Linked DNA regions of Homo sapiens: region 2 is linked to region 1. The links come from fine-mapping of genetic effects on gene expression. Tissue or cell type: atrial appendage. Region 1 holds a variant in brackets; the other region holds the start of a gene. All regions are shown on one strand. Distances are from middle to middle.

Region 1 (8,000 bases):
TTGCATTTTCAGAGCTGCTTCTTGCTGCCAGCACGGTGCATAGCTGTTAAGGGCAGGGTCCTTCTAAAAAGTGTAGGTACCATTTCTGTAGGATAAGCGAACCTCCAAGCAGTGCTGATTTTCTTAAAGTCTGTTTTTGTGTGTAACCCTCTGCAATTTAAGCCAATTTTTTTCAGTTCGGTCCTCTGTGACTCCTGCATGCTAAGCCTTTCTACCTTCTTCTAGATGAGGATGTGGATGTTCTTCCCTCCACTGTAGAAGACTCTCCTTTCAGTCGCGCTTTCTCCAGGAGGCGCCCCATCAGCAGAACTTATACACGGAAGAAGCTCATGGGAACCTGGCTGGAGGACTTATAGCCACAAACATTACTGAGCCCAAAAGATCAAGGAGTCAGCCAGGACCCTGTGGACATAAAGAAGTTGGATGCCTGGTCCCAAGCCTCTTTTGCCATGGTCAGTGTTCAGATTGCCATTAGAATGCCTTAGGGTTTTCTAATTCCCCTTATGGATCCAATCCATCTCCTGGCCCTGCCCCTTGTTGGGGAAGTTGCAGGAGGAGAGGTGGATGGCAATGTGATTGGTGCTATAACTCAGGCAGCCTGGGAGTCAGGAACCCAGACAAGGAATCCCATTCCAGCCTCACCCCAACCATGACCTTGGCAAGTCAGGGGGCCACTCTGCCTCATTTATGCAAATGGAGAAAGGCGCCCTCCCTGGGGTCCCTTGAGCTGCTGTAAGGCTGGGCTGCTGCGACACAGGCAGCGCTTTGTAAACTGTGAAGCCATATACGTGAAACTGAAGAGTGCATTGGGCAGTGGAAGCTATTTTTTGCCTTCCCTGTGTAACAGTAAAATCATCTCTAGTGACTGAGCACTCAGTACATTTTTGTTTAATGTTGGGCCTGAGGTTAACTGTGACCATGGTCCAGCTTGAGTGGCTTCTGGAGCAGCCACATTTTCAAGGACTGTCCAAGAGCCAGCCAGTTCAGGGCTCAGGCCTCACCCATTGCCCACTCCTGGGGAGACCATCACCTGGCTCATCGTTTCCACCAAGAGTGCCCCACAGGAGTGCCCCACAGACCCGCTGGACCAGCCTGCTGCGGGTCCTGGCCAGGGGTCTGGCTAACGGTGAGGGCTGACTCTGAACTGTCTCTCAGTCTCCAGAAAGTGTTCAAGCCTGTTGTGTTCCCAAATCTGATTCCTCCTATTGTCTTGTAAATCAAACTCTAAGTGAAAACTTCCCATTTGTCCCTTCAAAGATTTTTTTTTATTAAATGGTTTTTTAAGATCCTAAAGTCTCCCAGTTTCCCCTATATACATAAGACCATTTAAACCACAACCTGGTTACCACCGACCCTTTCGTGATGATTCTTGGCCAAACCCCTGAACTACAAGCACATCCATTTACGCCTGAAACCAGAATTGTCCTGAGATTCGAGCAAGACACAAGGCGGCAATTGGGTACCACAGCTTCATGGAAGTAAGTGGTGGGAATTTGCATATTATTTTGTTAAATGAGGGTCCAGTTCTTTTGGGCCATGGCCCAAATTTGTTGATCCCAGTGAGGGTACAGATGAGGGCCTGGATTTAGGGTGTGCGGTAAGGACTGCCCTTCACAGAAGCAAAACAGGCAGCTGCCCCTTTCAGCAGGCTCGGAGTCTCCCTCCAAGGCAGGGTCTGCCCCGAGGGCTTACAGGGGGTTTTTCCGGACATCAATCATCCCCGGGCTGGCTCGTCGCAGTTCCCGCCGGGGCTTGGACAAAGGCCCAAAGTTCCAGGGCAGGCCTGCCTCACCCACAGGAAGCACCCGCCCCACCAGGGGCTCAGCCGCCTCCCGCTGCCTCAGTTCCTCGGGGGACCCCTGCTCCTCACCACACAGGCTCGAGCGTTTCCAGGTCAAGGGTAACGGAGCGTGGACCAAGTCCCGCGTCTCCTCCCGGGTGCGGGGGGCCCCCTCAGTGAGGGGGGACAGCCAGAGAAGCTCGGGTGCCAGGTGGAGCTCATCTTCATTTCCAGGAGCCTGTCTGCCCTCCGAGCACAGGCTCCTCTTCTCCCCACCTGTCATGGAGAGTAACGTGTCCTCATCAGAAACAGGTGGCAACACCTTCCCGAAGCCCTAGCTCCCCAGTGCCCCAGCACAATAAGCAACCTGTGAATTGAGCCAATAAAGGCTCGAGGGAGAGTGGTCTCTAAGCTTTCCCCAAAGAAAGGGAACAGGTCTGACTTCAGAGCGCGACGAGGAGTTACCCCTGCTGTGGCCTACAGCGTTCACACCGCCGAGCTTCTGTTTCAGTTCCTGGTTTATCCACATGTAACGGCCCAGTTCCTTCTCCAGAGCTTGAATCCGGGCCTCATACTGCCTCCTGCTGTCTGCTAACCCTTCACCGAGGTGGTCTAGAGTGGAAAGGTCGAGGAGAGGGTGGTGAGGGCTGCAGGCGGGGCAGGCGGCCAGGGCTGTGGGGGTGGGGGCTGTGGGCTGGGTGGGGGCCGGGGTTGTGAGCGGTGGGCCGGGCCACCAGGGCTGTAGGTGCAGGGGCTGTGAGTGGCAGGGGCGGTGGGGGGAGGGAGGGGGGTGCAGGGCGGGGAAGATGGGGGTGGGGGGGATGGAGGGGGCCGGGGTTGTGAGCCATGGGCCGGGCTGCTCACCTCGACTCTGCTGCAGGAGCAGCTGCATGTTCTGCTCGTGCTCCTTCTGCTGCAGGGTCAGCTGGCGGTCCATCTCCAGGCGCTGCCGCTCCAGGGCCACCTCCAGCCAGTACACCAGCCTCTGCTGCTCCTCCAGCTGCATCTCCAGTTCCGAGAAGGCAATCTGCTGCTGGTGCTGCTCCTCTCGGAGCGTCACCACCTGTCCCAAGACCCAGCCAGGCTCAGCCCTCATCATGACCCCTCTTCATCCAGCTAATCCTCAATCACAGACACAGTATTGGCACACTTGCCACCACGGCACTAAGAAATCACCAGGGTCTTCCCTGCTGAGCCAAGACTCAGCCTCAGACACCTCAGCAGTGCTCTAGTTATCTTCCAACGATCAGAGCTGGCTCTCACCTTATCTGCTATCTCTGCCACAAACCCTTTCCTAGCCACACACTATGGAGCTGGGCAGAGCGTCAAGTTGTGGGATTTCATCTAGACCAACCTCAGCACTATGGACATCTGGGACCAGATAATTCTTGGTTGTGGGGGCCTGTCCTGTGTGTTATAGGATGTTTAGTAACATCCCTGGCCTCCACCCCCACCACTGTGACAACCAAAAGTATCTCCAGCCATGGCCAAATGTCACAAAAGGGCAAAAACTTCCCCTACTGAGAGCTACTATTGTGGCCATGGACCACCCTGAGGTTAGCCAATCAGAGCAGAAGTGGGGGGCGGGTAGGAAACTGGGTCTTAGTTTCACAAGTAAAATAGGCTTTAAGGTCAGGCGGCCCTGCAGATGAGTTGGTCCTGATTCTGTCCCCCAGTCTGGGAGGAAACGGGATATCCGCTGGAGCAGCTGCCATGAGACACCTCCCCACACGTGCCGCTGAGGAGGAGCTGGGGGGCCATGGGCTGCTGGCCCACCTTGTCAAAATACTTGCAGAGGAGGGCTCTGGTCTCTGAGGATGAGAGGTAGCTGAGCTTGGCCATGAGGTTCATCTCGCACTGGGACAGCAACGAGGCTGAGGCCCGAAGCACCCGCTGGCGGCATGTGATGGCCTCATTCTTATACTCAATGGCAGCATCCAGGGCCTCGATGGCCTCATCCAACTGGAACAGCGTCCGCTCCTCCTGCAGAGA[C/CAG]GGGCACGCGTGGAGGAACAGCACCCACTGCCTGAATGCTGAAGTCCTGGGCAGACATGCAACAGCCAACACGTAGCCACAACTGGGCCTTAAGGGTCCCCTCGTCCCAAGGGCCAAGTCAGCCCATCGAGAGAGGTGCCCCCTGCTCACTGTCACAGCCCCAACCCCAGGGTGAGCTGGGGGCACTGCTCAGAGGTGGCCTGCTCAACTGCAAGCCTCTGTGAATGATCTACATTCAGGAAGTTCAGAGCACCCTAACCAAACAAAAGGCATGGTTGGGACAGCCACGGAGGCACCACGGTGTCTGCTGGGTAAGCTTCTACAGATGGGGATACGTTCTAAGAAATGCATCATTAGGCGTTTTCGACGTCGTGCAAACATCAGAATATACTCACACAAACCTAGATGGTATAGCCCACCACACACCTAGGCTACAAGCCTGGACAGCATGTGACTGTACTGAATACTGTAGGCAGTTGTTAACCATGGTGAGTATTTGTGTATCTAAACATAGAAAACGCACAGTAAAAATGCGGTGTTATAATTTTCTGGGAGCACCATTGTTGTATGAGCTGTCATTCACTGAAATGTCACACAGCACATGACTATAGTCACATAGGCTTTCTCTCTGCTCAGGGAACACAGATGTGTGGGCATGAGGTGCACTGAGTATGCGCCTGACACTCCACACACGAAGCCGAGACGTGTGGGCAGGTACTCGAATGCAGCACAGAACAGGAGTCCAGGCTCCAGCCAGAAGAGAGCTGAGAGGTCAGCACAGCCTGGCCCCTGTGTCCCAGCCAATGAGGCCAAAGCAGGGGCAGAAGGGCCAGGCCAGCCCTCCCCAGCCCCCACCTCCACCTAACAGTGAAAACTTGGGTCTGCCGACAGCAAGGCCCAGCACCCGCAGAGGGCTGGAGCAAGGGCTGAGGAGAGCAGACAGACAGGCATACAATGGCACCAAGGGGCTGAGCCATGGGGCCGCAGGGTACCTCGGGGGACAGCAGACTCCCCTGCCTCAGCTTGCCGTCGATCTCCAGGCGCTGCTTGAGCAGCGAGTCCTTCTCCTGGCGCAGGCTGTCGATCTCCCCGCGGATCTGCTGCTGGCTCTGGGCGCTGCCCTGCCGCAGCTGCCCGCTCTTCTCGGACAGCTCCTTCTCCAGGTGCTCCAGCCGGCTGGACACTCGCACGATGTCCTCGTTGAGGGCCTGGGGGCAGAATCACCAGGGATTAGAGAAGGAACAGGCACTGTCCTCACAGGGGGGACAGAAAGGGCCGGATGTTAAGGAGGACTTGCGTCCTTCCCTCAAGAAACCAACACTCCAAATGTTCTGCTCAGCAGGGAGACCAGACTTAGTTCACAGAGACTCCAGGAGGCGGGGCTAAAGGGACCAGAGCATTTGCAGAGGGGCACTCAGAGATGGCGAGAGGAGGATAAGGACCAGAGGGACGTGGCCCTCCTGGCAAGAACAGGCAATGGGTAGGGGTGGGAGGAATGATCTGTCACTGAGATGACCGGACTGGACAGTGATAGGAATTGGCCAAGCCCTAAAGGCCTTTCTGGGAGCCAGATGCGGGAGGAAGTGAGGGCTCTCCTGGCGGAGGGAAGTTACGGATCATTCCAGTAGGACCCTGGATCCTCCTGGACATCAGAGTGATGCGTGCTGGCAGGAGCAAGGCTCCTGGCCTCTGCGGGCCTAGGACACTGGGCGTGTGGCCCAAGCCCCTGTACTGGAACAGGCCCTGCATCAATGACGGCCATCCCCCTCCAGCCATCATGGTAACATTATGATCCCATCTGACAGAAGACAACGCTGTGGCTCAGAAGCTGACCTTCCTATTCTAGATGGAGTAATGATGCCAGGCGGAGAAGTCTCTTTCTATTTGGCTATACCACCTTCCTATACCTGCGCCTCCTCATTCTTCCTGCACAGGCCCTGAGGAGGGGGTTAATGAGTGAAATGAATTGGAGGATGGACACTTAAGAGAGGTTCTTCTATGCATACATCTGTAACTGTGTCATAAATATCTTGAAGCCCTACAGCTCATGGGGATGCACAGGATAGAACCCAGTAGGACAGAGCTTCCTCTGTCTGGAACTTACCTGGCAGAGATACCACCTAGAAGAAACTCTCCTGTCTAGACCTCGCCTGGCAGGGACATCACCTGGCAGGTTTATCACTTGGAAGGACCTCACTTTGCTAGACCTCACCTGGCAGAAACTTACTTGGCAGGAGCTCACCTGGCAAGATCTGTCCTGGCTGGACCTCACTTCACTGGACCTCACCTGGCAGGATCTCTCCTGGCAGGGCCTCACCTGGCTGGATCTCAGGCGCTTGCTCTCCAGCCCCGTCTTCTCCTGCATCAGGGCCTCCTTCTTGGCCAGGATGGCCTCCCGCTTGTGGAGCTCCTCCCCCAGCTCCTCCAGCGCCCGCCGCTGCTGTAGCACCTTCTCCATCTCCTGGTCCAGCCACTTCTTCTGCTCCTCAATCTTCTAAGGAAAAGTAGGGAGGGAGGGAGGGAACTCAGGGCCCACCTCTGGCTGTGTCAGCCGCCACTCGAGGTTCACTGGGGAGAAAGGTGCACCCACCAGCCAGCCCCCAGGGGAGCCCTGGGTGCGGACACAGCCTGGCCCCACCTGCTGCTGTTCCAGGCTGACCACAGAGCCGTTGCTGCCACTGCGCCTCTTCCTCTGGAATGCCGCGATCTCTTCCGTCTTAATCTTCAGGATCTTCTGCTGTTGCTCATGCTTCAGCTCCAGCTCCTGGGTGAGGAGCTCAGTGGGCAGGGCTGTTTATGGTGCCAGCATCTTACCAGAGCCTGCCACCGATCCCAAAGCCCCCAGGAGTGCCTGCCCACTCCCAAGAGGGCCCTGCGAAGTGTCCCCCAGACCCATCCCACACAAATCTCCCTGGAGACCGGCAAATAGACGCAAACACTTAGAAATAAGCCCCACAAGATGCCAGTCACCTCATATACCTCATCTCACTGAAGTCTCACCCTGGCCTTGAGTTTCCTATAACATTCCACATTTTCAGATGAAAAAACAGACTCAGGCTAAGTGACCTGCTTTCTAAGGTCACGTGGCTGTGGGTTGCAAACCCTGCCTGGGCTCCCCTGGCTGGGCCGCCAGCTCAGCCTATTGGCCTGGACAGAAGGTCCCCACCCTGCCGTGAGCCTGACCTTGACGCGGTGCTGCCGCTTGCTCATTTCTGCCTCCAGGCGCCGCTTCTGCTCCGTCTCCTCGCGAAGCCGCCTCTGCAGCTGTCCCTGCTGCTGCCGCATGAGCTGCACGTTCCGCTCGAGCTCCTGCAGTCGCTTCTCACTCTGGGCCGACAGTGACACCAGCCGCTCCGTAGCCTGCTTCTTCTCCTTCAGCACCTGGGACCCACACAGTCTTCACTGGGCCATGCACGGGGCTACCGCGAGCCTGCCATAGTGCTGGGCACTCAACAAGGGCAGGCAGATAGAGGGCAAATGGGTAGGTGGGTGATAGACCAATAATAATAACAGAGGCCGGGTGCGGTGGCTCACGTCTGTAATCCCAGCACTTTGAGAGGCTGAGGCGGGCGGATTACTTGAGGTCAGGAGTTTGAGACCAACCTGGCCAACATAGTGAAATCCTGTCTCTACTAAAAATACAAAAATTAGCTGGGTTTGGTGGTGGGTGCCTCTAATCCCAGCTACTCAGGAGGCTGAGGCAGGAGAATCACTTGAACCCGGGAGGCAGAGGTTGCAGTGAGCCGGGATCGTGCCACTGCACTCCAGCTTGGGCAACACAGCAAGACTCTGACTCAAAAAATAATAACAGGACACAGGAGCCAAGATGGCCGAATAGGAACAGCTCCAGTCTACAGCTCCCAGCGTGAGTGACGCAGAAGACGGGTGATTTCTGCATTTCCATCTGAGGTACTGGGTTCATCTCACTAGGGAGTGCCAGACAGTGGGCGCAGGTCAGTGGGTGCGCGCACCGTGCGCGAGCCGAAGCAGGGCGAGGCATTGCCTCACTCGGGAAGTGCAAGGGGTCAGGGAGTTCCCTTTCCTAGTCAAACGAAGGGGTGACAGATGGCACCTGGAAAATCGGGTCACTCCCACCAGAATACTGCGCTTTTCCGATGGGCTTAAAAAAGGCACACCAGGAGATTATATCCCGCACATGGCTCAGAGGGTCCTACGCCCACAGAGTCTGGCTGATTGCTAGCACAGCAGTCGGAGATCAAACTGCAAG
Region 2 (8,138 bases), 56 kb before region 1:
ATCTCAAAGTGTGGCTAAAAAAGATCTCATACTAGGAAAACAAGAATGTCAGATCCACCATTTTCATGTGATTTGCTTGTGATTGTATTGTTAATATTAATAATACAACTTCCAACATACGACTTCTTAGCAGGAATCTTGTAAAGCCACTTTTTCTTTTTCTTTTTTTTTTTCTTCTTCTTCTTTTTTTTTTTTTTTTGAGATGGAGTTTCGCTCTTGTTGCCCAGGCTGGAGTGTAATGGTGCGATCTTGGCTCACCACAACCTCCGCCTCGCAAGTTCAAGCAATTCTCCTGCCTCAGTCTCCTGAGTAGCTGGGATTACAGGCATGCGCCACCACGCCCAGCTAATTTTGTATTTTTAGTAGAGATGGAGTTTCTCCATGTTGGTCAGGCTGGTCTCGAACTCCCAACCTCAGGTGATCCGCCTGCCTCAGCCTCCCAAAGTGCTGGAATTACAGGCGTGAGCCACCGCACCCGGCCACACTTGTTCATTTTTTGAGACTCGTTTTAGTTAAAACTCAATTGGATAATCCTTCAATCCATTTAATCAGATTAATGAAAAATGCAGTAGTCACAAAACACTGGTACCCAATGAATGAGTGCATTGTCAGATAAAAAATAAGAGAAACGGAAGTTCAATATTTTCTTCCTGCACCCAGTGGGTTGATTGCCTTGGGCACTTCTTTGTGTGTTAGCTCTTCCCTTTGGAAAACAGTCCCCAACATGGTCTGCAGCATGTCCTCACAGGTCTCACTGCTTCATTCTTGCCCCTACATATTCAATTTTCCACCTAGTAGCCAGAGCGCTCTTCTCCAAACACAAATCATATCAAGTCCCTCCCGTCCTCAAAACCTTCCCCTGGCTTCCTAACATTCTCAGTAGAATATCCAAGCTACCTCTGTGGTCTCCAGAGCCTCTCACTGGCCCCACTGCCTCCCTGGCCTTTCTCTCATCCCACCACCTGCTCACCACCACCCAGCCCCACTGCCCCACTGCCCTCCTTCCATTCCTCAAACTCTCTATGTTCCTTCCTGTCTGGGTGTTTCAAAGATGCCCCAATCACTTTTCCTCCCTGCTCTTTCCTGTCCCTATCTCACCCGCCATTGTTAAACTCCTGCTTACCCCTAAAATCTCAGTTTAAATCTCACTGCGTTAGGTTGTTGCTTATCCCTTAACACCTCAAGGCACAATATACATTTCAGTAAGGTTTGTGATGCAATATGTCACAAAATGCAATATGTGAATACATTAAAGTTTAAACAAAAATCTTAACCAGCTCACCCATTGTAGTCCCTTATCCTATGCTTCACTTTCCCCTTAAAATTCTTTTCAGACCGGGTGGTGGCTCATGCCTGTAATCCCAGCACTTTGGGAGGCTGAGGTGGGTGGATCACCTGAGGCCAGGAGTTCCAGACCAGCCTGGCCAACATGGCGAAACCCCATCTCTACCAAAAGTACAAAAAATTAGTGGGGTATGGTGGTGGGCACCTGTATTCCCAGCTACTCGGGAGACTGAGGCAAGAGAATTGCTTGAACCCGGGAGGTGGAGGCTGCAGTGAGCCAAGATCACGCTGTTGCACTCCAGCCTGGGCAACAAGAGCAAAACTCCGTCTCAAAAAACAAAACAAAACAAAACAAAAAAACCTCTTTTCGGAAAAAAAATTTTTTTCATATTATGTTCATCTGTATTATTATCTGTCTAATGTCTGATCCCCTACCTATTAGACTGGAAATTCCATTAGGGCAGGAATGGTGCCTGGTATATAGTAAGTGTTGTTGGATGAGTGAAATGAATGACTGGCATAAGGATGAAAGGTGTTATGAGCTGAGCTGTGTCCTCCCAAAAAGATATGTTGAGGTCCTGGCTGGGTGCAGTGGCTCACTTCTGTAATCCTAGCACTTTGGGAGGCCGAGGCAGGTGGATCACGAGGTCAGGAGATCGAGACCATCCTGGCTAACATGGTGAAACCCTGTCTCTACTAAAAATACAAAAAAAAAAAAATAGTCGGGTGTGGTGGCTGGCGCCTGTAGTCCCAGCTACTTGGGAGGCTGAGGCAGGAGAATGGCGGGAACCCAGGAGGTGGAGCTTGCAGTGAGCCAAGATCGCGCCACCGCACTCCAGCCTGGACGACAGAGCGAGACTCCATCTCAAAAAAAAAAAAAAAAAAGATATGTTAAGGTCCTCCTATCCCCCAGCATCCCCCAGAATGTGATCTTATTTGAAAATAGGGTCTTGTAGAAGTAAGCAAGTTAAAATAAAGTCATTAGGGTGGGCCCTAATCCAACATGACTGGTGTCCTTATAAAAGGGAAGTTTGGACACAGAGACAGCCATGCACAGAGGGAAGATGACGGGAAGACACACAGGAAGAACACCAAGAATTGCCAGCAAACATCAGAAACTAGAAGAGTCAAAGGATGATTCTCCCCTAGAGCCATGGGGGCTGGAGGGGAGCAAGTGCATGCCAACACTTTGATTTTGGACATCAAGCCTTCAGAACTGTGAGGCAATTTTTGGGTTTGATCCTTTGTTATGGCAGGCAGCCCTAGAAAACTCAACCAAAAGAGAAAATTGTTGTACATGAGGCAGTAATTGCTGAGGACTTTGATTGGAGAAGCCAAGGCACATAAAGGAAGTTGTAGCCAAAGCATATAAAGGAAGTTGTTCTGTTTCCAGGTGGAAACAGAATTACTTAGCAAGCAGAATTCAATGGTGTGGAGTATTGGATCAATCTCCCTAAACACATATTCAGGTAACCGACCTTCATTTTTTGTCCCCTTCTTCTTTCCAAATACCATATTCCACTGATCCTAGAGGCACATCTCACATCTCTGAAATCAGCCTGTTCACTGGTGTCCAGCAAGAGGAAGTGTAAAAAAGTTTCAAAAAAAATCACATGGAGAGACCATCACAGACAACTTCCGGTACACAATATTATATTAACAGTTTAAAAATATGCATATAAATGCATTTCTATCTATATATAACTTCTATCTATGATTATCTATCTATATATAATTCCTTTTTTTTTTGTTTTGTTTTTTTTTTTTTAGTAGAGACAGGGTTTCACTGTGTTAGCCAGGATGGTCTCGATCTCCTGACCTGGTGATTCGCCCGCCTCGGCCTCCCAAAGTGCTGGGATTACAGGCGTGAGCCACCGTGCCCGGCCTATCTATATATAATTCTATGTATTCTATCTATATAGCGATATATAATTTCTATCTGTAATGCAAATCTACATGTGATTTCTATCTATATATACATGTAGATAGAAAATTTAGGGAATTCACTGCAGGTGCTGCTTGCAGTCCACTTTTAAAACCTAACATTACATAATAAAACACTATTTTAAGAAGCTGCACTAGGCCGGGCTTGGTGGCTCACGCCTGTAATCCCAGCACTTTGGGAGGCCAAGTCGGGTGGATCACAAGGTCAGGAGTTTGAGACCAGCCTGGCCAACATGGTGAAACTCCGTCTTTACTAAAAATACAAAAATTAGTCTGGGGTGGTGGCGTGCGCCTGTAGTCCTATTCAGGAGGCTGAGGCAGGAGGATCGCTTGAACCCGGGAGGTGGAGGTTGCAGTGAGCCAAGATCGTGTCAATGCACTCCAGCCTAGGAGACAGAGCGAGACTCCGTTTCAAAAAAAAAAAAAAAAAAAAAAAAAAAAAAAAAGGAGCTGCACGATGCTCCCCTTGGGCGTGTACCATACCTTATTTAACCATTCCCAAACTGTTTCCATTTTTTCTGATGTTAAATAAACTCTAAGATGTACAGACGTCTTTTATCTGGCTCTCCGATTACCTTCTGCAGATAAACTCCTAGAAGTTACTGGGGCAAAGGGAGTGAACCTTTAATTTTTAATAAAATTTTTTAAATTACAGAAAAAGCCGTAGTCGTCAGATTCTACTTCCTAGGCGGTCCACAGGGATTTCAACAAGTTCGATTCAAACCATCCCAAATTCCCTCCCGGCACTAAGTTTTCCTCGGTCTTGGGAAACGTGGCCCCGCAGTCCGCACTCACGACTGCGCACAAACGCTGGCCTCTTTCCAATGGCGAAACTTCTCGACACGCCCCCGAGGCACCACCTCTTTAAAATTTAAAACGAAGGCCCAGGCCAATGAATGCTAAGCTTCTCTCGGACCACAGAGACCCGCCCACCGTCACTCCCTCCACCAATCAGACTGAAGTTTTCTCCACTGCCCCTCCAATCACCGCCAAAAATGGAAGTTGCTCTCGTAACTTACGTAAGGCAAGCAGCCAATAGGAGCAAACCTTGGAAACTAGCTCCCCCAATAGCAGCAGTTCCTGGAGAGCGCGGGAGCCTTTCGACCAGGGTCCCAAAGGAAAGCAGTGAGTGGTGCTGTTTCCCTGAAGGAAGGGACTAAGGGACGGTGGCGCGGGCCCGGACCGGGGCCCCGGGGCGGCGGCACGGCCGATATGGCATGCTGTCACAAAGTAATGCTGCTGCTGGACACCGCGGGCGGCGCCGCCCGCCACAGCCGGGTCCGGCGGGCCGCCCTGCGCCTCCTCACCTATCTGAGTTGCCGATTCGGCCTGGCCAGGGTCCACTGGGCCTTCAAGTTCTTTGACTCGCAGGGGGCGCGGAGCCGGCCGTCCCGCGTGTCTGACTTCCGCGAGCTGGGGTCCCGCTCGTGGGAGGACTTTGAGGAGGAGCTGGAGGCCAGGCTCGAGGATCGCGCCCACCTGCCCGGCCCGGCGCCCAGGGCCACCCACACGCACGGCGCCCTGATGGAGACGCTGCTAGACTACCAGTGGGACCGGCCCGAGATCACGTCGCCCACGAAGCCGATCCTGCGGAGCAGCGGGAGGAGACTGCTGGACGTGGAGAGCGAGGCCAAGGAGGCCGAGGCCGCGCTCGGGGGCTTGGTGAACGCCGTCTTCCTCCTGGCCCCCTGTCCGCACTCGCAGAGGGAGCTGCTGCAGTTCGTGTCTGGGTGCGAGGCCCAGGCCCAGCGCCTGCCGCCCACCCCTAAGCAGGTGATGGAGAAGTTGTTGCCCAAGAGAGTCCGGGAAGTCATGGTCGCCCGAAAAATCACCTTCTACTGGGTGGATACCACCGAATGGTCTAAGGTAAGGAAGGTTACTGTCGTCTCAGATGGCGTGCACGGTGCTTTCCTTGCTAACCAGAACTTGGCAGCGTCCTTAGAACAGCCACAGACCCCGAATGAGACTAATATGACTATGCGTCCCTTCGGAAGGAAACAAATAAATAGGAACAGTTTTCACAACAAAATGGGTAGTTCCTCACTACCTACTGTTTAAGACCCCTCACAATTTGGGCCCTACCTGCCTTCCCAGACTTGATTTTCCTACACACTACATCTACTCTAGCATATTGAAGTCCAGTCCAGAAAATCAACAGGTCTGGACTGCTTGTTTTGTGTTATGTGTGTTGTTCAATCTGCCTGGAATGCCAGTTCTCACTCTTCCAGGCCAGTCTTAACTTCACTTACCCTTTAAGGCTTCTTCTCCCAGTGACAACTGCTCAGTCCAGCGTCTGAATTGCCATACACATTTTGTGTGGCACTTAACCATTTCTCCATATGTTTTGATTATGCACATCTCTCACCCTCCATCTAGTCTAAAAATACCTCAGAGGCAAGCAGCAGGTTTTAACACAATACCCAGGGGTGTGTGTGTATGTGTGTGTGTATATATATATATATATATATATATATATATATATATATACACACACACACATATATATACACATTTATTTATATACATATATATATTTATTTATTATTATTTTTTGAGACAGTGTATGTCGCCCAGGCTGGAATGCAGTGGCTCACTGCAACCTCCACCCCTCCGGGTTCAAGCGATTCTCATGCCTCAGCCTCCCAAGTAGCTGAGACTACAGGCCCACGCCACCATGCCTGGCTAATTTTTTTGTATTTTCAGTGGAGACCAGGTTCCATGCTGCCCAGGCTGGTCTCAAACTCTGGCCTCAGGCAATCCGCCTGCCTTGGCCTCCCGAAGTGCCAGGATTATAGGTGTGAGCCACCACGCCCAGCCACCCAGATGTGTATTAAACGTTGTAGGTGTTCAGTCAGTATTGGCTGACTAAATGAGTACATTCTTGCGTACATTCTTGCAAACTTAAAGTCTTAAATGGCTAATTTGGATTTTTGCTGAGGCGGTGAGGCCCCCTGCTCCTGTTAAGTGCTAGGATAAGTATATACTTTTGCCTTCATCCTTCTCATTGCACTTCATTTAGTCAACAAATGTTCATTGAGAAGCCAGTAACATCTGAGTGCCTACCACACTGTTTGAGCTGCTGGGGACATGGTAACCAAAGCAGGGAACAGATTAAACAGATAAGCAAGTGACAATTTCAAATCATGCTCTGGAGAAAATAAAATGGGGTGAGAGGATGGGAGTAGAAGGTGGTTATTGTATACAGAGTGGTAGTGAGGGAAGGCCTTTTTTTTTTTTTTTTTTTTTTTTTTTGAGACAGAGTCTCGCTTTGTCACCCAGGCTGGAGTGCAGTGGCGTGATCTCGGCTCACTGCAACCTTCACCTCCTGGGTTCAAGCAATTCTCCTGCCTCAGCCTCCCAAGTAGCTGGGATTATAAGCGGGCGCCACCAGGCCTGGCTAATTTTTTTGTATTTTTAGTAGAGACGGAGTTTCACCATGCTACCCACCCTGGTCTCAAACTCCTGAGCTCAGGCAGTCCGCCAACCTCAGCCTCCCAAAGTGCTAGGATTACAGGCATGAGCCACCGTGCCTGGCAGGGAAGGCCTTTTTGAGCAGAGAATTGAATGGTGAAGGAGGAGGAACTCAAAGGTAGGTAAAGAACATTCCAGGTGAGGAGACAAGCAGGTGTAAGGATTTCAGCTGGAAATGAACTTAGTTTGTTTCAGAAACAAAAAGGCAAGGAGTGCTGAGACCTAGTAGGCAAGGGGAGCAGTGTGAGAGAAAGTCAGAAAGCAGGAGAGGCCGATCTGTAGGGCCAAGGTCAAAAATGTGGATTTTGTTCTAATTAATTAATGGGAAGGCTTTGGAATGTGGTTTAACCAAGTGAAAGATGTGATTCCACTTAATGGAAATACATGTCACTAACCCAGGAGTGAGTTAAATTGCAAGATTACAGATGGAAAATGAGCAAGCATTTAAATAATAATATGGTATGTTAAAATTTTCAAAGTGCTTTCACATGCGAAGCCCAAAAAAGGCGTGGCAAATGCAAAATAAGGCAGCAGTGGTTTGTCAAGAAAAGGAAGGGACAAAAAGTGTTTAAGGGGATGGTAAACATTTGATGGGGAAAATGAAATCCTAGATATATTAAAATTTAAGGCAGCCAGTCAAGCCTTAGACACAGTATACAACACATTGCTCAGCTGGAAACAATTGATATCACATCAAAGACTTTCTTCTGGAATTTTATTATGTTAAATACTGGCTAGAAATAAGTTAGATGGGGCTTGATGGATCTTGGAGATTCTTTGTCTCTCTTTTTTTCTCTTTAATCTCTCTCTCTCTTTTTTTTTTTGAATAGCATTGAAATAAGTGGGTTGACTGGATCTTTTTAAAGATCCCTTCCAGGTCTGATGTACCGTCGACTGAGGGGATGGGTCATCTCTGAGGCTTCCCTTCTTACATCGGCTGTATCCCCTAAGAAAATGCCCATCAGATACTCAAGTTTTTCTGGAATTTTCTTCTGCTGAAGATCTATCATTTTCTATTCAAAAACCTGCCCAGCCATGCTGGGCAAAAGGAAGGTTTGGGCTGTGTCCTTGGGGAGTGCTCTGTCCAGGAGCAGGGAGAAGGGAGGAAGAGAAAATCCAGGTCCTGCCTTGGGGAGCGTGCAGTCTGGGAAGTAGAACTGGGAGAAACAGAACCTGCACTTACATTGGAGGCAGAGGGATCCAAGCGCATAAAACAGGATATCATATTTGCAAAGATATAGGACAGAATGGAGGATAAGAGACCTCTGACACATTTTCAACTTTATGCCTTAGATTTATTCAATACATATTTGTTCCATACCTGCCAGGTATGCTAAGGAATCAAATAGATGTGGTCCCTGCCCTCTTGGAGCTTATAGTCTAGTGGACATTTACAGATCCCCAAATTTGAAACTACCACTAGGACATGTCTGTCACTT

Which allele goes with the higher level. Positions count from the first base shown, and alleles are read on the strand shown. Sizes are in standard deviations (SD) of each study's normalised expression.
With allele C in place of CAG in region 1, the expression in atrial appendage of the gene that starts at base 4,323 in region 2 is higher (moderate effect, 0.42 SD a copy in GTEx).

The links. PIP is the estimated chance that this variant, and not a neighbour inherited with it, causes the effect.
Region 2: it holds the start of TICRR, and the variant in region 1 is fine-mapped to the expression of TICRR in atrial appendage (GTEx, PIP above 0.99). The same link has a PIP of 0.9 or more in breast, subcutaneous fat, thyroid, tibial artery and tibial nerve.

Annotation. Positions count from the first base shown.
Region 1 is chr15:89,626,731-89,634,730 of GRCh38, forward strand. TICRR (TOPBP1 interacting checkpoint and replication regulator) reads left to right here. Exons shown (of 22, transcript NM_152259.4): 22 at 226-1,293. The coding sequence ends at 356. KIF7 (kinesin family member 7) reads right to left here. Exons shown (of 19, transcript NM_198525.3): 12 at 6,956-7,153; 13 at 6,411-6,536; 14 at 6,090-6,266; 15 at 4,765-4,980; 16 at 3,557-3,763; 17 at 2,645-2,843; 18 at 2,246-2,392; 19 at 1,247-2,056. The coding sequence ends at 1,689. Among named protein-coding and RNA genes, the nearest start is that of KIF7, 25 kb to the right of the region's middle. RefSeq lists an enhancer at 2,034-3,233. The variant C/CAG (reference allele first, on the strand shown) is at 3,773.
Region 2 is chr15:89,571,147-89,579,284 of GRCh38, forward strand. It overlaps TICRR (TOPBP1 interacting checkpoint and replication regulator), which reads left to right and starts at 4,323. Exons shown (of 22, transcript NM_152259.4): 1 at 4,323-5,094. The coding sequence starts at 4,441. RefSeq lists a silencer at 4,311-4,600 and an enhancer at 4,722-5,250.